Linked DNA regions of Homo sapiens: region 1 is linked to region 2. The links come from fine-mapping of genetic effects on gene expression. A gene starts in region 2. The other region holds a variant in brackets. All regions are shown on one strand. Distances are from middle to middle. Region 1 overlaps UBXN7 (UBX domain protein 7). Region 2 holds the start of UBXN7 (UBX domain protein 7).

Evidence for each region.
Region 1: its variant is fine-mapped to the expression of UBXN7 in whole blood (TOPMed, PIP above 0.99).

The regions. Positions count from the first base shown.
Region 1 is chr3:196,346,101-196,355,394 of GRCh38, reverse strand. It overlaps UBXN7 (UBX domain protein 7), which reads left to right. Exons shown (of 11, transcript NM_015562.2): 11 at 1-7,733. Among named protein-coding and RNA genes, the nearest start is that of TM4SF19-DYNLT2B, 12 kb to the right of the region's middle. The variant G/T (reference allele first, on the strand shown) is at 4,117.
Region 2 is chr3:196,428,546-196,437,839 of GRCh38, reverse strand. UBXN7 (UBX domain protein 7) reads left to right here and starts at 5,413. Exons shown (of 11, transcript NM_015562.2): 1 at 5,413-5,513. The coding sequence starts at 5,441. It overlaps UBXN7-AS1 (UBXN7 antisense RNA 1), which reads right to left and starts at 6,455. Exons shown (of 2, transcript NR_046745.1): 1 at 6,399-6,455; 2 at 4,806-5,638. RefSeq lists enhancers at 5,096-5,175, 5,108-5,881, 6,256-6,305, 5,882-6,656 and silencers at 5,216-5,465, 5,486-5,545.

The sequences.
Region 1 (9,294 bases), 82 kb after region 2:
TTTCTTCAGTGTTTTTAGAAGAGGCCATCTTGAATCTGTAGAATACCATTTACACATCAACTTCACCCTATGCTCATTTCGTATTTTGAGCTTAAATGGAGTCCTCTGAAGGGGGGGTAGTCGTGATTCTGGTGGCAAAACTAGAACTTTTAACTTGTAAAATGAAAAATATTAAATGGACCTTTTTGTCAGTTGAGGATTTAGATTGATTCTTTTATCTGAGGAGCGTATGTTCCTCAGATGTTGCGTAGAGACCTTTAGGTTTTCATCTACTTTAAGATTGCTCTCTTGGCAATTAGGGGATTTGGGAAAAGAAGAAAAAAAGATGCCATGTGTTGCTAGTACACAGTTATAGGATATGGTTTCTAATGGTTGAATTTTGAGGAACTCTCCCTAAAGAATGAGTTTTATATCTCCTCAAGGAAATCATGGAAAAATCTGTTTATTCTTCAGTGAGTCCTTTTGAATTAATGTTCTTAAATTTTTTTCTAAGTCTGTGTAAGTGCTTATGTATAAGTATATAATTGTATAAATATTTATAAATATATTTATATAATTACGGTTTCATTTCTACCTTGAGTCAAAGTTCTGTCTTTAGATTGGTGACTGAGTAATACTTACACTTTGGTGTTTTTTCTTAGGTTCTTGAGGCTTACTTAACTAGCAGCTTCTGATTTATTGAGTGAAAGATGGTTTTCATGTTAATTCCTCAGTTGCATCTCTGAACTTGGATAACATACTTGCCGTTTGAAAAATAGAGCTGTATACTGTCAAAGGTGCACTGGAGGGTAAAACATTTGTTGGTAGTAGACAAGCTCAGAAATCCAAAAATTCAGGGAGGGCACAGGGTAAGAAGAGAGGTTTGCTCAGCTTTGTGCTCTGATGGCACCCATCTGTACTCCAGCAAAGTCATAGCTGAAGCCCAAATCGCTCAAACGTGTGAAGTCAATCATTTTTCCTATAGGGCTCTGTTTCCTTTTCTTTACCTTCTAGCTTCTCTTGATAAAACAGTTGGGAGAACTGCCAACGTGTTCATCAGTGAGAGGGTGTGGTTCTTTCCGATATGTTCAGCACGTGCATATTCATTTATGAGAAACCAAAGTAACTTCTTCAACTCGGGTTACTGTGGGATGATTAAGTAGATATAAAGTGATTTAAAAGACAGCATGGTACTTTCACTCAGCTTAACATGCAGCTGGGATGTCTACAATACAAGATGTGGTGGGTTTTATTTTATTTTATTTTGAGGCAGGAGTGTAATTATCTTAGGGTTGATATAAAGGCCCATGGGAAGAGTTACGGATTGTACATGGGAAGAATCCATAAGGAGTATTGCCTTGCTCAAGAATTTAATCCGCTGACAGTATGCTTCTTCCAGTTTGCCTTACTTCCTCTGCAAGTTTCTTTGCTCCTTAGGGCAGAGGTTTTATTGAATAGATTAAATGAGGTCAGTAAGATTAGTTAAAAATAGTCATTCCTTGTGGGTGTTGGACACAGCTTGAAAGGAGTGTTTAAAAAAAAAAAGCTAGGGAGGAAAAGAACAAGAAAGATAGACTTCGAGAGTGATAAGAGAAAAATACAGGGAGATGGAATGGAAACTACCAGGAAGGCCGGGCGCGGTGGCTCATGCCTGTAATCCCAACACTTTGGGAGGCGGAGGTGGGCAGATCACCTAAGGTCAGGAGATCGAGGCCAGCCTGAGCAACATGGTGAAACCCCGTCTCTACTAAAAATACAAAAATTACCTGGGTGTGGTGGCGTGCACCTGTAATCCCAGCTACTCAGAGGCTGAGGCAGGGGAATGGCTTGAACCTGGGAGGCAGAGGTTGCAGTGAGCCAAGATCGCACCATTACACTCCAGCCTGGGCGACAAAGCGACACTCCATCTCAAATTTAAAAAAAAAAAAGAAGAAGAAGAAGAAAACTAGTGGGAAAAAAGTGAGAGGAATACTTTTTTGAAATTGGTATCGGAAGGAACTGGAGAAGAGAAAACAACAGTGCCAAATGAGAAAAGAACAGGAAACTTAATACTAATTGGCATGCACCAGATACTTTTGTGTACATTTGCCTCTTCAATCTCCCGAAGAATCGTACAAAATGTATACTTTCTTCCCATGTTAAGAAAACAGGTATAGAGAACTTATTCAGGACTCATAGCTAGTGAGTGGCAAATCAGAATTGGAATCCAGAGTCCATGCTGTGGTCTCCTTCAGCAAGAGAATCAAGCTACCCAGATGATTCTCTTCTCATTGTTTGGCTTTGTAAAGTGTCACTTAGTTTTGTTCCCATAAATATAGAGGAAGTAGTTGGGTTAAAGTTGTGGGATTTGCACTATGCCTATACATTTTTATTTATGCCATTATTTTGAGAGGCTGATTATTGCTTTTTTAAAATGATGCACTGGTGAAGATGTGAAAGTAAAATTGCCACGTGGCATTATTTGCCAAGAATAAATGAAAAGGGTAAAAAAACAATTTTTTCTTTTTTTAAACATTTTTCAGAAAAGATACAATTACCTTTTTTAATAGGTGAGCGCCACCACGCCCGGCTAATTTTTGCATTTTTAGTAGAGACAGGGTTTCACCATGTTGGCCAGGATGGTCTCGATCTCTTGATCTCGTGTTCCGCCCACCTCGGCCTCCTAAAGTGCTGGGATTACAGGCATGAGCCACTGCGCCCGATCTACAATTCTGTTTTCTGTGTCCCATCCATACCAGATTATTGAACCCTCTGTGTGTATGTTTTTAAATCTTGTATATAATTCTACTTCCTTGACTTACAAGTCAACAATTAGCTATTGAGTTCTTTATAGAAGTTGGAAGTATTTTGAAATCTGAGATCTAATTCCTGGCCAGGTGTGGTGGCTCATGCCTGTAATCCCAATATTTTGGGAGGCCGAGGTGGGTGGATCACCTGAGGTTGGGAGTTCGAGATCAGCCTGGCCAACATGGTGAAACCCCATCTCTACTGAAAAATACAAAAATTAGCCAGGCATGGTGGCTGTCTGTAATCCCAGCTAATGGGGAGGCTGAGGCACAAGAATCTCTTGAACCTGGGAGGCGGAGGTTGCAGTGAGCCGAGATCACACCACTGCACTCCATCCTGGGCAATGGAGCGAGACTCTGTCTCAAAAAATAATAAATAAGATATGATTCCTGCCTGTTTTATCCAGTTAGAGAGACACACTACACATGAAATAATTGGAGAGCATGTAAATGTTTACCTATTAGTTCAAACTTAGAAAAAGGGAAGAATATGTTTTAGTTAGCAAAGTCTTAAACAAGACTGAAGTGGCAAGCACTGTAGCTCACGTTTTCTTTTGACTCACCTTTTTCTTTAGCTCCACCTTTTGTAACTTCTAGATTTGGGGCATGAAGTTCTGCCACTAAGGCATAACCAGTACCCAAGTAGGAAAGGATTATTGATCCCTGGAGTAAAGATTCCTAGCTTGCGGGGATCTCACTATTGATCCCCCGGAGTAAAGATTCCTAGCTCGCAGGAATCTTACTTGCACACTTAGGGAAAATACCAGAGGGAGCCACTAGCAACCGAAAAATGAAGGAAAGATTTAATTTCTCTACCCAGGTACAAATCCAATGCATAGTATAGTATATGTTATATGCAGAAAGGGCACTGGAGGTGTGAGAGCCCTTTGGGTAACAGCTCTGCTAGTTGTTACCTTCACACTTCTCTTTCTTCTTAATCTCTGGTTTCTCGTCTGAAAAATGAGATAATTGGACTAGATTAATAGTTCTCAGCCTTTTCTAGAACAACAAATTAGATTATCTCTGAAGTCCTTTTCCAAAATTTCATGCTTCCAGTCTCTCCCCGTGATTGCGTATTATCCCTAGGCTAATTAAAAGTGTGCTGGTTAATCAGTTTCTTTACTTTTTTTTTCTCTCTTTTTTTTATTCTGTGTTCAGGTATCATTTGACCAACAACTTGCTCTTAATCTTACTGCGATGACTGAAATCTCCAAAGAGGAGAGTATAGTAGTTATAGGTCTAGTAATAATAATCTTGTAAACAATTCATTATTTTTTAAAACTTAATGCTGTGTGCCTAATCAGTGTTGAGTATGACTAAAATGTAAATGAGAACCAAATATGACACTAAC[G/T]CTGGCACTAAATTTTATTTTTACTTGTGTACTTAAAGTACTTTACTGGCCTGTTGGGAAATTGATTTGTATAAGATTCACACCTGGTTTTGGCAGAAACAGCTTTTTAAAGATACAATTAGGCTGACTTAAAAATGTTTTTTATTCCACAGAATGTATCTTTATTATGTCATTCTTACCGTCTCTCTGCCTTTTTTGACCATCATGTAACTACGCAGTAGTAAATCATGGGGTGCAGGCTGATGAATTAGTAGTCTTTGTAAAACTAAAATGTAATGAGCATAGGAAGAGACAGCTCTTCTGGTGAACATGGCAGTTTTCCGGTAATACCAGCCTTGATGAATAGGCTAAAGACAGCTGTGTACTATGGACATTCAACTTCACTGGATTGCCTGGCTTAGCTTTTCAGTTATTGTCTTGCCGTGAAACATGGTGTTGCACTGTACACATTTTAGAATAGTGGCAAGAATGTTCTTTAGAACTGCAGATAACCCAACAGAGAATACCATACCAATATATCGGTTTCTCCTGTTACATAGAGATTTGGTATTTCAGTGATGGTTATGGTTTTTGACTCACCTGTGTGTCAGTCCTGCTAGAGAGACAGTATAGAATCAAGAATTTCTTGATGTCTTTTTAAAAATAGAGATTATAATGGCCTTGCTAGTTGTCCTGTGAAGTGACAGACCCTTAATTAGAAATCTTTTAATCCTGCTTTCCATTTTACTTCTCCACCATTTATTTTTAACATTCATTCTCTGAAAATAGTTATGATTTTTAGTGTAATTGGCTATGTTTAAGAAATTCCATTTCAAAGTCTTAATATGTAACAATCTTCATTTTTTATAAAATTGAAGGACATTTTTGAGGCAAACTTACTTTTATAGCTCATTTTCTCCCTAGTTAAGGAGAATTCTCTGGTTTCATATAGAGAATGGCTAGCTCTGTGATACCCCACCCTCTTTGTGGCCTACCAGTTGCTGTTGTGTTGCTTAAAATTGCAGATATTCTCATAAACATGATGATTTTTGGCACAGGCCTTTCTTTGCTATTGATTTCAAAATAAAGTTGGGCAATCCAATTTGAACTACTTTAATAAACATAATTTAGCATTCCTGTAATGAGAAAGTATTTTCAAAAGATAACCAGATTTATTTCTAGGATTAGAGATGGCAAATACCAATGATAGTATTTTTCCCAAGAGCAATCACAGATTAATCTATAAATATGAGAAGTCGCATTATTGTACTTAATTCTTTGGCAACAAACAGCAAGTTTTTATTGTTTAATTGTATTTCCTCTCTAGAGATCACAATACTCTGGGTATTTTATATCCCTTCTAAAGGTCATTTGGGTTTTCAAATGGGAAGAATAGTCAAGCTAAGCTGGACTAAACCTAAGTAATATTTTTTCTCATCAAAAGAAGTTATTAATCTAACTGGGTTAGCATGAGTCATTCATTTTTTAGACATGATAAATGGGAAACATATCAAATCATTAGATAAATTCTGACCTGGAATTGAATTCCCCCTTTCTTAAAATCTTTTTAATTTGCTTTTTTCATAGACTCAGTATGGAACTCTTAACTGATAAGGGAGAGATTCTTGATCTGGAACCGTTCCCTGCCATTCTCCTTTTTTCTCTCTATCTAGGTAGCTGGTTCCATAGTGCCCGTCACGAGGGTCCATTTCAGTTTGATGACATTAGACTGCTTACACTCAGCTGGATGCCTTGCTGTTTGCAGCAACATGATTTTACAGTATGCTTTTCTCAAAGCTTTGCATTCTTAATGGAGATATCAAATGGTGTAATTCCAAATATAAATATGTTTATGACACTAATCATATGCTTTTAACAATAACTTTTTGATAACTTATTGCCCTGTAAGTTAAACCTTACACGGAGTGACTGTTGCCATCAGAAAATCCCCTTTCACCTGCTAGAGAGAGTGAAAGTAGTGCGTGGCCTCCACTTTTCAGTTAACGAGTAGCAAGCTTCTAGTAGGGGCTGCTTATCTGACCCATGTGGGGTCTTGGGCCTTGTTACTTTCCTGGGTTCGTCCCTTCAGCTGGAAAGGCTGTTGAAAACACTTGCCAGGAAACAGTAAAGCTGTGAGAGAATCTTCTAGTCTTAGATATAGAGAAATGAGTACCAGTTGATGCTAACACGATACTTAGACTTTGAGGGGCTTCCATCCAAGCTTTGGCATGAATCTGTTAGACACGGTTTTCTTCACTCCTCTGATAATCTTTTTTTCCAGAATGGTTTTTTGTTGTTGTTGTTGTTAACAAATTCTAAACATCCAGTGTTACTTTTTGTTTTGTTTGTTTTGTTTTGTTTTGTTTTGTTTTGTTTGCCCTTCAGGAAAGTCCTTTTTCGAGTAGGTATTGATTGTTCCCTGGAAACTCTCAGCAGTGTCTGTGCAGGCTCTGTGCATGCTTTGTATGAGTTCGGCTTGAACAATGCATTTGAAGTCACCTGGGATGTCCAGTTCTGGCATGTCTTCATTGATTGTGTTTTTAAACATGTTTCATGTTTCATGTCATTTTCCAAACCTCACTTTACATCTTACTCAGAGAAGTTAATCAAGGAATGAAATTTCTAGGGGGATAGGGATGATGAGGGTGGGTTGGGGGCTTGAGTGAAGTCAACTTGGGGTATTTGCTTTAAAGTGTTTTCTAAAGCAGTTCCTAACAGTATTTAGAGATTCCCTGGGATGTTTGTGGCTCAACTTATTCTGGACAAAGTGTGTGTGGGGGTGGTCTTACTGAGATTTGCATTCTTAATGCAGGACAGGCTCTAAATTTCATCTGTACTCTAAATTTGTGATTGAATCCAAGAAGATAACAGAGACAGTGCTCCTGTTGTAATGTTTCTGGCAAGTGCTCCCTAAAATGCACATCGAATTCTGTTTTCTGGGCCTTTTCTCCAATGGTGCTAGGAGATACCGTTGATTTCTGCAGCTCTTCTCAGTGGTGGGAAGAAGTCTTTGGGATTGTTGAGCAAGGGGCAGCTGGACCATCCACTAAATTTTTTTGTTCAAGACACATTAGAGACCCTCCTGTATATCTAGTAAGTCATAATAAAGGTGCTTGGGAAAGCCTTAAATTTGAAGACACATGGAGGCGGTAGAAAATTAAACTTGTAAGAGGAGAAAAACATGCCATTAGGTAACGCAGAGTTGTAACTACTGGCTAAGACTCAATGGAACTTCCACTTGCTCTAAAACCAGGGAAATCTTAGATAACTGGGTGTGATCTACCTATAGATCTACCTAGTCTATAGGTAATAATTTCCAGAAGGAGGATCTTGCTGTCAGTTGGGGATCCTCTGGTTTGGTCTGTACCAAATTGTGAATACTCTTGCTGTGTTGTACCCAGTTGCTTTATATTAATACTGCAACTTGAAACGGGGAGGGTGGGGGGACAATGGGGTGGGGGAGGGAAGGGAGTGGGACGATAAGTCTTTTGAAGACATCAGCTCACTGTGCTGAGAGAGGGACCAAACTCAAGGAAACCTCTGATCTATACATTCAACTGCTGCATTTTTTTATAAATACATGTAAATGTCCTGTTGTAATATTTGATCTTGGAAATAAAAACAAAAACTTTTCAGTATTAGTTTTTTTTGTGTTGTTGTTTTTACAAGATAAGACTCTGGATATTACTTTCAGTAATACAATTGAGATTCCAAAAGCTTGCCCCCTCACGTTCTCATTTAGGTCAGTTACTATTGATTGACAAAGGTTACTTTGTAGTCCCGTTGTTATGTGTAACGTTTGCTAGCCTTTTTTCTGCTCTTTGTGGTATGTCAAACATTCATGGTAAACACTCTGTAAATATTAGTCCAGTTGTTACAGAAACATTGGGTAAGCTAGGCTTGTTAGGTAAGTATGATTCTGTGTTTGACATACTTGGGCGAATATTCAGTGTCTGTTCTTTCAGACCAGCAGTAATTACTAATGGTTAATTAAGGACTTAGCTTAATTGAAGGAAAGATAATTACTAAATTAATGGGCAAAAAGGAGATACGATTATATGGTATGACAGAAATTGTTATTGCTGCTGGATGCAGTGGCTCATGCATGTAATCCCAGCCCTTTGGGAGGCTGAGATGGGCGGATCACCTGAGGTCAGGAGTTCGAGACCAGCCTGGCCAACATGGTGAAACCCCGTCTCTACTAAAAATACAAACATTAGCTGGGTGTGGTGGCGGCCGCCTGTAATCCCAGCTACTTGGGAGGCTGAGACAGGAGAATCGCTTGAACCCAGGAGGCAGAGGTTGCAGTGAGCCGAGATCGTGCCACTGCACTGCAGCCTGGGCGACAAGAGTGAAACTCTGTCTCAAAAAAAAAAAAAAGAAAAAAGCCGGGCGTGGTGGCAGTGCCTATAATCCCATCTACTCGGGAGGCTGAGGCAGGAGACTTGCTTGAACCTGGGAAGTGGAGGGTGCAGTGAGCCGAGATAGCATCCAGCCTGGGTGACAGAGTGACTCCATCTCAAAAAAAAAAAAAAAAAAAAAAAAAAAGGGACTGCTGCTTAGCTCACAGTTCTACAGTGATGGGTTTGTGCCCCCCCTTTTCTTGTGGAACCATTTCTCATCCCCATGCTCCAGCCTCATGTGCCAAATAATAGGGATGTATGTGATGGGGAGCAAAACAGATACAGCCTCTGCCCTCAAGGAACTTACTTTCTAGTTGGAAACAGACGATAAACATACATGGAAAAACAGATCTGATTCTAATAGAATGAAAAAAAAAAAATAGAAAAGGAGCCAGTAGAGAATTCTTTATTTTTTTAATTTTGAGACAGAGTCTCGCTCTGTTGCCCAGGCTGGAGTGCAGTGATTTGATCACAGCTCACTGGAAGCTCCGCCTCCCAGGTTCAAGCAATTCTCCTGCCTCAGCCTCCCGAGTAGCTGGGACTACAGGTGCCCGCCACCACGCCCGGCTAATTTTTGTGTTTTTAGTAGAGACGGGGTTTCACCATGTTGGCCAGGCTGGTCTCGAATTCCTGACCTCAAGTGATTCACCTGCCTCGGCCTCCCACAGTGCTGGGATCACAGATGTGAGCCACTGCGCCCTGCCTGGTGTTTCTTCTCACTGCCTGCACCTCCTTGATTGGGTCTTTATGGTGGTGATCCCCAGGACCTGGCCCTCTAACTCTCCCTCTGTGATCT
Region 2 (9,294 bases):
TAATATTGAGTAGACGTAATAATAGAACGCATTATTGTTACTGACTTTAAATGTCTAATTATTAACTAGGATGCTGTTTACTCTGCATTTTTGGTAGATACATTTTATTAGATTAAGGAAGTTTCTTTATGTAGTTTGTTAAGGTTTTTAAAACATTTTGTGAATGGATGTGCATTTATATCAATGGTTTTCCTGTGTCTGATCAAATGAATCAAATAATTTCTCTTATTTAATTTGTTTTACTATGGTGAATTACATTGACAGAGGTGTTTTTTTTTTTTTTTTCTGGAGTTTCTGGTGTCCAGGCTGGAGTGTGCAGGGTGCAATTATAGCTCATTCAGCTTCAAACTCCTAGACAATTGGGCTCCAGTGGTCCTCCTACCTCAGCCTCCTAGGTAGCTGGGATTACAGGGGCGAGCAACTGTGCCATTTGTAAGAGCTTTTTACTGTAAAATTATGCTTGCATTCCTGAAGTAAACCCAATAAAAAAAATATGTACATGTATGTGTGAATATGTGGATTTCTAAATTCTGATTTAATTTAAGATATCTGTTTCAGTAGCCATGAGTGAGGATGAATTCTCATTTATTATTTTGTTTGATTTGATTTCAAGGTTATGCTACCCTTATAGAATGAGCTGTTTGTTCCCATTGTTCTTTATCTGGAAGCATTTGTATAAGTTTGGGATAATCTGTTTCTTAACTTTTTTGGTAGCAATCTCCTGTAAAATCACTGGGGTGTGGTCATTTGTGTGGCAGATTTCATTTTGTTAATGGTCATAAGTCTATGCATAGTTGAGTTCCATTTTGTTAATTATTTCTTCTAGGAAACTGTCATTTATCTATTTCCTAATTCATCAGCATAAAATTATTCATAATATTCTCTTATTTTTCAAGCCACGGCTATGTCTGCTATGTCTTTTTTTCATAATATTGTTTGTGTCTTTCTCTTTGTTCTTAATCTGTCAAAGGTTTTATTATTATTTATTTTTTTATTTTTTGAGATGGAGTCTCACTCTGTCACCCAGGCGGGAGTGCAATGGCACAATCTCGGCTCACTGCAACCTCTGTCTCCTGGGTTCAAGTGATTCTACTGTCTCAGCCTCCCAAGTAGCTGGGATTACAGGCGCCCGCCACCACGTCCAGCTAATTTTTGTATTTTTAGTAGAGACGGGGTTTCACCATGTTGGCCAGGCTGGTCTGGAACTCCTGACCTCAGGTGATCCACCCACCTCGGCCTCCCAAAGTGCTGGGCCTACAGGTGTGAGCCACCACACCTGGCCTGTCAAAGGTTTTACATATTGTTATTTCAGAGAACCAGCTTTTGGTTTTATGAATCCTCTCTTCTGTATTTTGTATTCTATTTTGTCAATTTCTGCTCTTTAGCATTTTTTCTTCACATTTTTCCTTGTCTGCTGAGTTGTTGTTCCTTTATTAACTTCTTGATGAAATGCTGAGCTACTTATTTTCCAGTCTTCTTCTCTAATATAACCAGTTAAGCTTATATATTCTCCTTTAGCTTCTGTTAAAACTCCATCAGTTTCGGGCCAGGCTCTGTGGCTCACCCTGTAATCCCAGCACTTTGGGAGGCTGAGACAGGTGGATCACTTGATGTCAGGAGTTCAAGACCAGCCTGACCAACATGGTGAAACCTTGTCTCTACTAAAAATACAAAAATTAGCTGGGCATGGTGGCCTGCTCCTGTAATCCCAGCTACTTGGGAGGCTGAGGCAGGAGAATCGCTTGAACCCAGGAGGCAGAGGCTGCAGTGAGCCAAGATCCTGCCACTGCACTCCAGCCTGGGCGACAGAGAGAGACCCTGTCTCAAAAAACAAAACAAGATGAAACAAAAAAGACCCAAACAAACCAAAAAGCTCCTCAAGTTTTGGAATGTATTTCCATGACCATTCCATTTTACATTTGTGTCCATCAATTTCCTCTTTTCCATCCTGCTCTCTGCCCCGGGGCTGCCTGTGGGAACTACAAGGGGCTTCTTGCTGTGCCCTCTGTCTTCCATTTGGGTTCAGCCATTGGGGATTCCTGGCAGGAGACAGAAGAGGAGATCGAGGTCAGGGTATCTATGTCCCTGAGCTCCTCTCTGAGATTGCCTCAAGCTGCTTATTTATGTCCCTTGACAGAAGGTCATTGCTTCTTGCATGGTGGTTTGCTCTGCAAAAAAATCTCACTTGGGATTTCTCTAACTTCTCTCTGTTCTCATCTCTTTGGACGTATGGGTTGTGACAGTTCTACTGTTACTAGTATGAGATCCTCCACTGTTCCTTGTGATTTCCACATATCTTACCCAGGCTGGAGTGCAGTGGTGTCATCATGGCTCACTGCAGCCTCGACCACCTGGGCCCAAGTGATCCTCCCGCCTCAGCCTCCAGAGTAGGTGGGACTACAAGCTTGCACCACCGCACCTGGCTAATTAAACTTTTTTTTTCTTTTTTCAGAGATAGGGTCTCCCTATGTTGCCTAGGCTGGTCTCAAGCTCCTGGGCTCAAGTGATCCTCCTGTCTTGGCCTCCCAAAGTGCTGGGATTACAGGCATGAGCCACGACACCCATCCTTCATATTCATATTCTTTTTTTTTTTTTTTTTTTTTTTTTTTGAGACGGAGTCTCACTCTGTTGCCCAGGCTGGAGTGCAGTAGCTCATTCTTGGCTCACTGCAAACTTCACCTCCCGGGCTCAAGCGATTCTCCTGCTTCAGCCACACGAGTAGCTGGGATTACAGGCACGCACCATCACGCCCAGCTAATTTTGTATTTTTAGTAAAGATGGTGTTTCACCATGTTGGTCAGGCGGGTTTGGAGCTCCTGACCTCAGGTGATCCCCAGCCTCGGCCTCCCAAAGTGCTGGGATTACAGGTGTGAGCCACCGCAACTGGTCAGTCCTTCATATTCTTTAATAATCCAAAAAAGCTTTTCAAGGTTGTATTATTCATTACTTCTTTATTTATTTTTCCCAGTTCCCTGGTTATCCATGGAAACTGTCTCATTTTCTTCCCTTCTTTCCCCCCCTCCCCCCGACCATGGAATCTTTTTGGCCACCTGTCTAATTTTCTTTTATCTTATTTTTTAATTTCTAAAAAAATGCCTTCTGGAGTTGTGGATGCCACAGACTTTATCACCTTTTCCTGCACTGTTAATCAAAATCATATCATTAAATCTGAATTATAAGATTTTGGAAATAAACCTGATAAACCTGCAGAGCTCATTACTGGCCTCTCCATCTGATGGAGGTACAGTAATCACTGTGTTTAGTTTTTGTAGTTAATGGTGTTATACCATTTTACGTGGAGCTTGATTTTGCATGGCTGGCTAGTGACTCAGCCTTTAGGATGAAGGGAGACAGAGGTAACACTTTCTTGATTTGGCTTTCTTCCCTTGCCTGTTTTTGCACCTCTGCATCAAATGTGAAGGAATCAGCTGCCGAAATTTATGACTGATCCCTGCCCTTCCTCAGCCCATCTAGAGAACTGCAGCAACCTGGAAGGCAGTGCCAGGACCAATCTGTCATTTAACTTAAAATACATTTTTTTTTTTGAGACGGAGTCTTGCTCTGTCACCCAGGCTGGAGCACAGTGGCATGATCTCGGCTCACTGCAACCTCTGCCTCCCGGGTTCAAGTGATTCTCCTGCCTCAGCCTCCCAAGTAGCTGGGATTACAGGTGCCCGCGCCACCACAGCAGCTAATTTTTGTATTTTTAGTAGAGATGGGGTTTCGCCATGTTGACCAGGCTGGTCTGGAACTCCTGACCTCGGGCGATCCGCCCGCCTCGGCCTCCCAAAGTGCTGGGATTACTGGAGTCTGCTTTCTTTTACATCAATCATATCTTCTTGAAACTACAGCCCGACTGGGTGTGGTGGCTCACGCCTGTAATCCCAACACTTTGGGAGGCCGAGGCGGGTGGATCACTTGAGGTCAGTAGTTTGAGACTAGCCTGCTCAACATGGTGAAACCTCGTCTCTATTAAAAATACAAAAATTAGCCAGGCGTGGTGGCGTGTGCCTGTAATCCCAGCTACTTGGGAGGCTGAGGCAGGAGAATCGCTTGAACCCGGGAGGCGGAGCTTTCAGTAAACTGAGATTGCACCACTGCACTCCAGCCTGGGCGACAGAGCGAGACTCCCTGTCAAACAAAACAAAACAAAAAACTATACCCCTTGATTTGACATGGCTCTTTCTTAATTCTCCCCAATAGCATGTTTACTCTTAGGATGTGTCAATTCTTCAGACAGCTCATCCCATCTTTTATTGGGCCATTTTCCTATGAAGATGCAAAATATGTGGGTGGAGGTTGGAAGGTGGGAGGCTAAAACAAACGGAATCACTTGGAATCTCTTTTAACTTTATGGGCAAGGTGGGGGATTATTGGATTTGAGCGCACCCCACTCATGTAACTGTTTTGCAAAATACTTAAAATTATTCAAGGAACACACGAATATCTTTTTTTTTTTTTTTTTTTTGAGATGGATTCTTGATATATTTCCCAGTCTGGTCTCGAACTCCTTGCCTCAAGCGATTCTCCCACCTCGGCCTTCCAAAGTGCTGGGATTACAGTCATGAGCCACCGCGCCCGGCCAATAATGTTTGTTTAAAAATAAAAAGATAAATAAGAAACTCGAAGTAAGGTCCGCTTTGACCATCGTCCCGATCGTTCTCTTCTCTGGAGGTAACCGTTACCAGCGTTTTGAGCACACTTTTCCAGTCTCCTTTCTATATGTTTTCTTTCCTCTACTGCATATACAGAGTTTCTTTTTATACAAATGACGCCTCTTGGGGTCTCATTAAGACCCTAACGGGAGACGTGATGGCCAATTTATTTAAGGAAAGCAGACTAAACAATCGTTTATGAAAACCTACTGGGTGGCAACCCCGCGCTAAGTGCTTTCTTTGGCATGAAGGGTTCTGGTATTTCACTCGTCGCAATCGGTTAGCTAAGCCATTAGTTTAGAGGCTGGGGGGCGAGTACGGGGAGAGTCGCTTCAAAGCGAGGAGGTAGGGTTTGCATTTTGATGGGACCTGCAGGAAACCTAATAGAGTGCGGTACAACCGCAAAACAGAAAAATGCTGTCATCGGCAGTTGGCTCTGTCAATAAAGCTTGCGAAGCTGAAATGCGAAGAACTATCTGCCGAGACCGAAGCTTCCTTCGGAATCTAGGAATCGACACCGCGCCTGCGAGGCTAGCCTTGGAGCCCGGAGAGGAAGGCACCAGCAATGGCAAAAAGGATGCACTGAGCAGGCAGCAACCGAGCAGCCAACCCGAGAGCTGGGAGCGCGCGGGCCCGGTCGGAAAATGCGCCTGCGCAGACCGCTGGGGACGGGAGGGGCGGGGCTCGAGGGGCGGTCAATGCGCCTGCGCACACCGCACGGCGAAGTGGGGGAGGGCAGTCCGTGTGTGTCTGTGTTGTTGTTCGGCGGCGGCGGCGGCGGTAAGATGGCTGCCCACGGGGGCTCCGCGGCGTCCTCGGCGCTGAAGGGGTTAATTCAACAGTTCACCACCATTACCGGTAAGAGACGCGGTTACCGGAAGGTGGAGAGTGGGGTCCGGAGCGGGCAGCGGGTCTGCCCCGGGCTTCCCCTTACCTTCAGGCATTCCTCCTTCGGGCTTTACCCACAGCTGCCGTCCTCCCTCCTGAGGAAGAGGCGACGACGGCGTCGGGGTCTCCGGGTTCAGGCGGGAGACAGCCCCCCCCCGCTCCCGATACCCTCGTTCTCTGTCTCCTAGTAGCGTGGAGGGAGATCCCCCAACCCCCCGCCAGCCCAGACCTGGGAATGGGCCGAGTCCGTCCGCCCCCGCCGGCCCGGGGACCCGGGGGCGGGAGGAGTAGGGGGCCGCACCCGGGCCACCGCCCTCCTCCTCCTCCTTCATCATCTTCCCTTCTCTGTGCAGCCCTGCGGTGCGGTGCATCTCCTCACCTCCTTTTTTCCTTTCTTCCCCGGCCAGGTCATTCTGCCCCGGTCCCCGGCCTGCCCTTCCCCTTTCTGGGCCCCTCGGAGCCATCGCCGTGGCCCTGGCGGGTTCGGGCCCTCCCGCCTTCACGGCAAGGCCGGTGGGTTCGGCCGTGCCTTTACACTTCACGGGGGACAGGCCGCCAGAAGCGGGGGGTGCTGAGGAGGACCTCAGGGACTGAGGCTTTGAGGGAAGAATGAGGGGGAACCCCCAAGCTGAATAGGGGAGGCCTGGAAGAATCCAGGGTGGCGTTTCCCACCTCCCCATAATAAAATCATAAAGACGGAGACGATGGCGCCGGGGCCTCCTGCTGATAAGATAGGGATGGCGGCAGAAACTTCTTTGAGAGAAAATCTGTTTCTGGGTGTCGGTATCCCCGAAACCCTAGGCCTAGGTTCTCTCCCTTTGGACCCCTGCGAAGGACACACGCAGATCCTCTTACCGCCTGGAGGAAAGGCCCTAAAGCCATTCTATGAATTCTCTCTGTCTTGTTTCTCTCTGATGGTGCTGAACTTTTCTTGCATGAGTTATTAGAGGGCGGAGCAAATGATGAAGTTCTCTGTGGAGTGATTTGAGAGAAGAGTACTCCAATGTGCCTGAGTGTAATTTTGCCGTTCTAGTTTGTCGTTTTGGAAGGAGGTCAGAATGTTAGTTCCCTCTCAACGGATCTATACTTTATCTCGTAATTTGTTAGATGCGGAGAATGTTTCCACTGTTAATGTTCCTAGAGTTTAACGTGCAATATCTGGTTAAGTAAAATTTTATATTGTTTTAACTACTACAGGTTGTATACTAGTTACCGTTTTATATTAAAGCAAGTTTTATTTTTTTGCTTTGCAATGATAACGAGATATTTGACGCATTGTTATCTAGCTTGTGGGCATGGAACATCAGGTCAAAGTAAAGTAAAATTTGCAATAAAATTGGGGTGAGGAGTTGCATGATAACTTCTCTTAATATTTTTGAACTTTGTGATTGGATTATTGAAGATATAAAGGATTGGATTATTATATTAAATATGTAAAGGATTTCCTAATGTCTGACAAATCATTGCTATGGAGAAGATTATTGTGTATATAAGTTAGTGTTGCTGCATTATGCTTATATAGAAAAATCTTTGCAGTGAATCTGATAGAGAAGTGAATATCATTATTAATCCTTTAGATTTCCTAGAGATGGTTTATGATGCCACTTGGGCCTGGCGCGGTGTCTCACGCCTGTAATCCTAGCAGTTTGGGAGACGGAGGCTGGAGATTCACATGGGGCGAGGAGTTGCAGACCAGCCTGGGCAAAACATAGTGAGGCCCCATCTCTACAGAAATAAGAAAATGAGCTGGATGTAGTGGCACCGACATGTAGTCCCAGCTACTGGGGAGGCTGAGGTGGGAGGATTGCTTGAGCCTAGGAGTTCAAGGCTGCGGTGAGTAGATCATACCACTGCGCTCCATCCCTGGCAACAGAGCAAGATCATTTCTCAAAAAGAAAAAAAAAGCCACTTATTATTATTATTATTATTATTATTTTGAGACAGTCTCGCTGTGTTGCCCAGGTTGGAGTGCAGATCTCCCAGGCACGATCTTGGCTCACTGCAACCTCCACCTCCCGGGTTCAAGCGATTCTCCTGTCTCAGCCTCCCGAGTAGCTGGGACTACAAGCGCCTGTCACCAGGCCCGGCTAATTTTTGTATTTTTAGTAGAGGCGGGGTTTCATCATGTTGGCCTGGCTGGTCTTGAACTCCTGTCCTCAAATGATCCACTCACCTCAGCCTCCCAAAGTGCTAGGATTACAGGCGTGAGCCACCGCGCCTGGCCCTAAAAGCCACTTAATTAATTTTCAGTTTCTTATGCTAATTACTACTCTTCCCAAACTCTGATTGGTTTAACGCCACATTACTTCTTCTGTTGCAACATTTTTATTAGGTACACACAAAAACCGAAGTGTGGTGAGTTGAATTGACTCACTTAATTGCTTTAATTCTGTTTCTGTTCGTCTACGTAGCTTGATTGCTGGATCAAGTTGGAGTCCCTCAATCAGTAGACAGTGGTATCTGGAGATCTACAGAGCGAAAATACCTTTGAGTGTTCTTCAAATATTGTGAATTTCTATTGATAATTTTTGGGATTCTTTTTACAAGATAGTGATTAACCGTTAGAAACACATGATTGATTTCTTTTTGCCTTTTTTACATGTCTTAAAATTTTTTTGGGGTTCTCTCCACATACGTTTTAATCGTAGTGTTTATAATTAAAAGGTATTTTATATTTATTTTAGTGACCTTAATAGCTTATGCTCTGATTTCACAAAGGTTTTACTTGGAAGCTCAATATTCTTGTAAAAACAAATGCATCATCAAAAATGTGAGTCCTTACTTTTTAGGCAGGAGCAAAAAAAAGAAAAAGAAAAAATAAAAATAAATGTGAGTCTTATCTTTTTTTGGCATTTAGAAATAGAACGGAAAATTGAAAGATTTTAGAAAAGTCTTATTTCTTACTGAATAGAACAGATCTCTCTCTGATTCAGTGAGTATGAAATAATGACTGATGTTTTTTTTTTTTTTGAGACGGAGTCTCGCTCTGTCACCCAGGCTGGAGTGCAGTGGCGTGATGTTGGCTCACTGCAAGCTCTGCCTCCCAGGTTCACACCATTCTCGTGCCTCAGCCTCCCAAGTAGCTGGGACCACAGGCGCCTGCCACCACGCCTGGCTAATTTTTTGTATTTTTAGTAGAGACGGGGTTTCACCGTGTTATCTGGGATGGTCTCGATCTCCTGACCTCGTGATCCGCCTGCCTCGGCCTCCCAAAGTGCTGGGATTACACGTGTGAGCCACCGCGCCTGGCCTAATGACGGATTTTTGATTTTTTTTTTTTTTTTTTAAGAGATGGAGGTCTCCTCTCTTTGTTGCCCAAGCTGTTCTCCAGTTTCTGGGCTCAGCCATCCTCTTGCCTCAGCCCTCCCAGTAACTGGGGCTACAGGTGCACATCACTGTGCCTGGTTCAGTAATGGCTGATTAAAAAAGATTATTAAAAAGACAATATCATAAAAACTTTTTTTTTTTTTTTTGAGACGGACTGGGTCTCACACTGCCACCCAGACTAGAGTGCAGTGGTGTGATCACGGCTCACTGCAGCCTCTAGGGTAACTTTCTTTATTTTTTGTGGAGATGGGGTCTCACTTTGTTGTGCAGGCTGGTCTTGAACTCCTGGGCTCAAGCAATCCACCCACCTTGGCCTCCCAAAGTGCTGGGATTACAGGCGTGGGACACTGCACCTGGCCGAAATAATTTTGATAAAAGGGAAAAGAACTAATTCTCCTTCTCACAACAGCAATATTTATTTTAC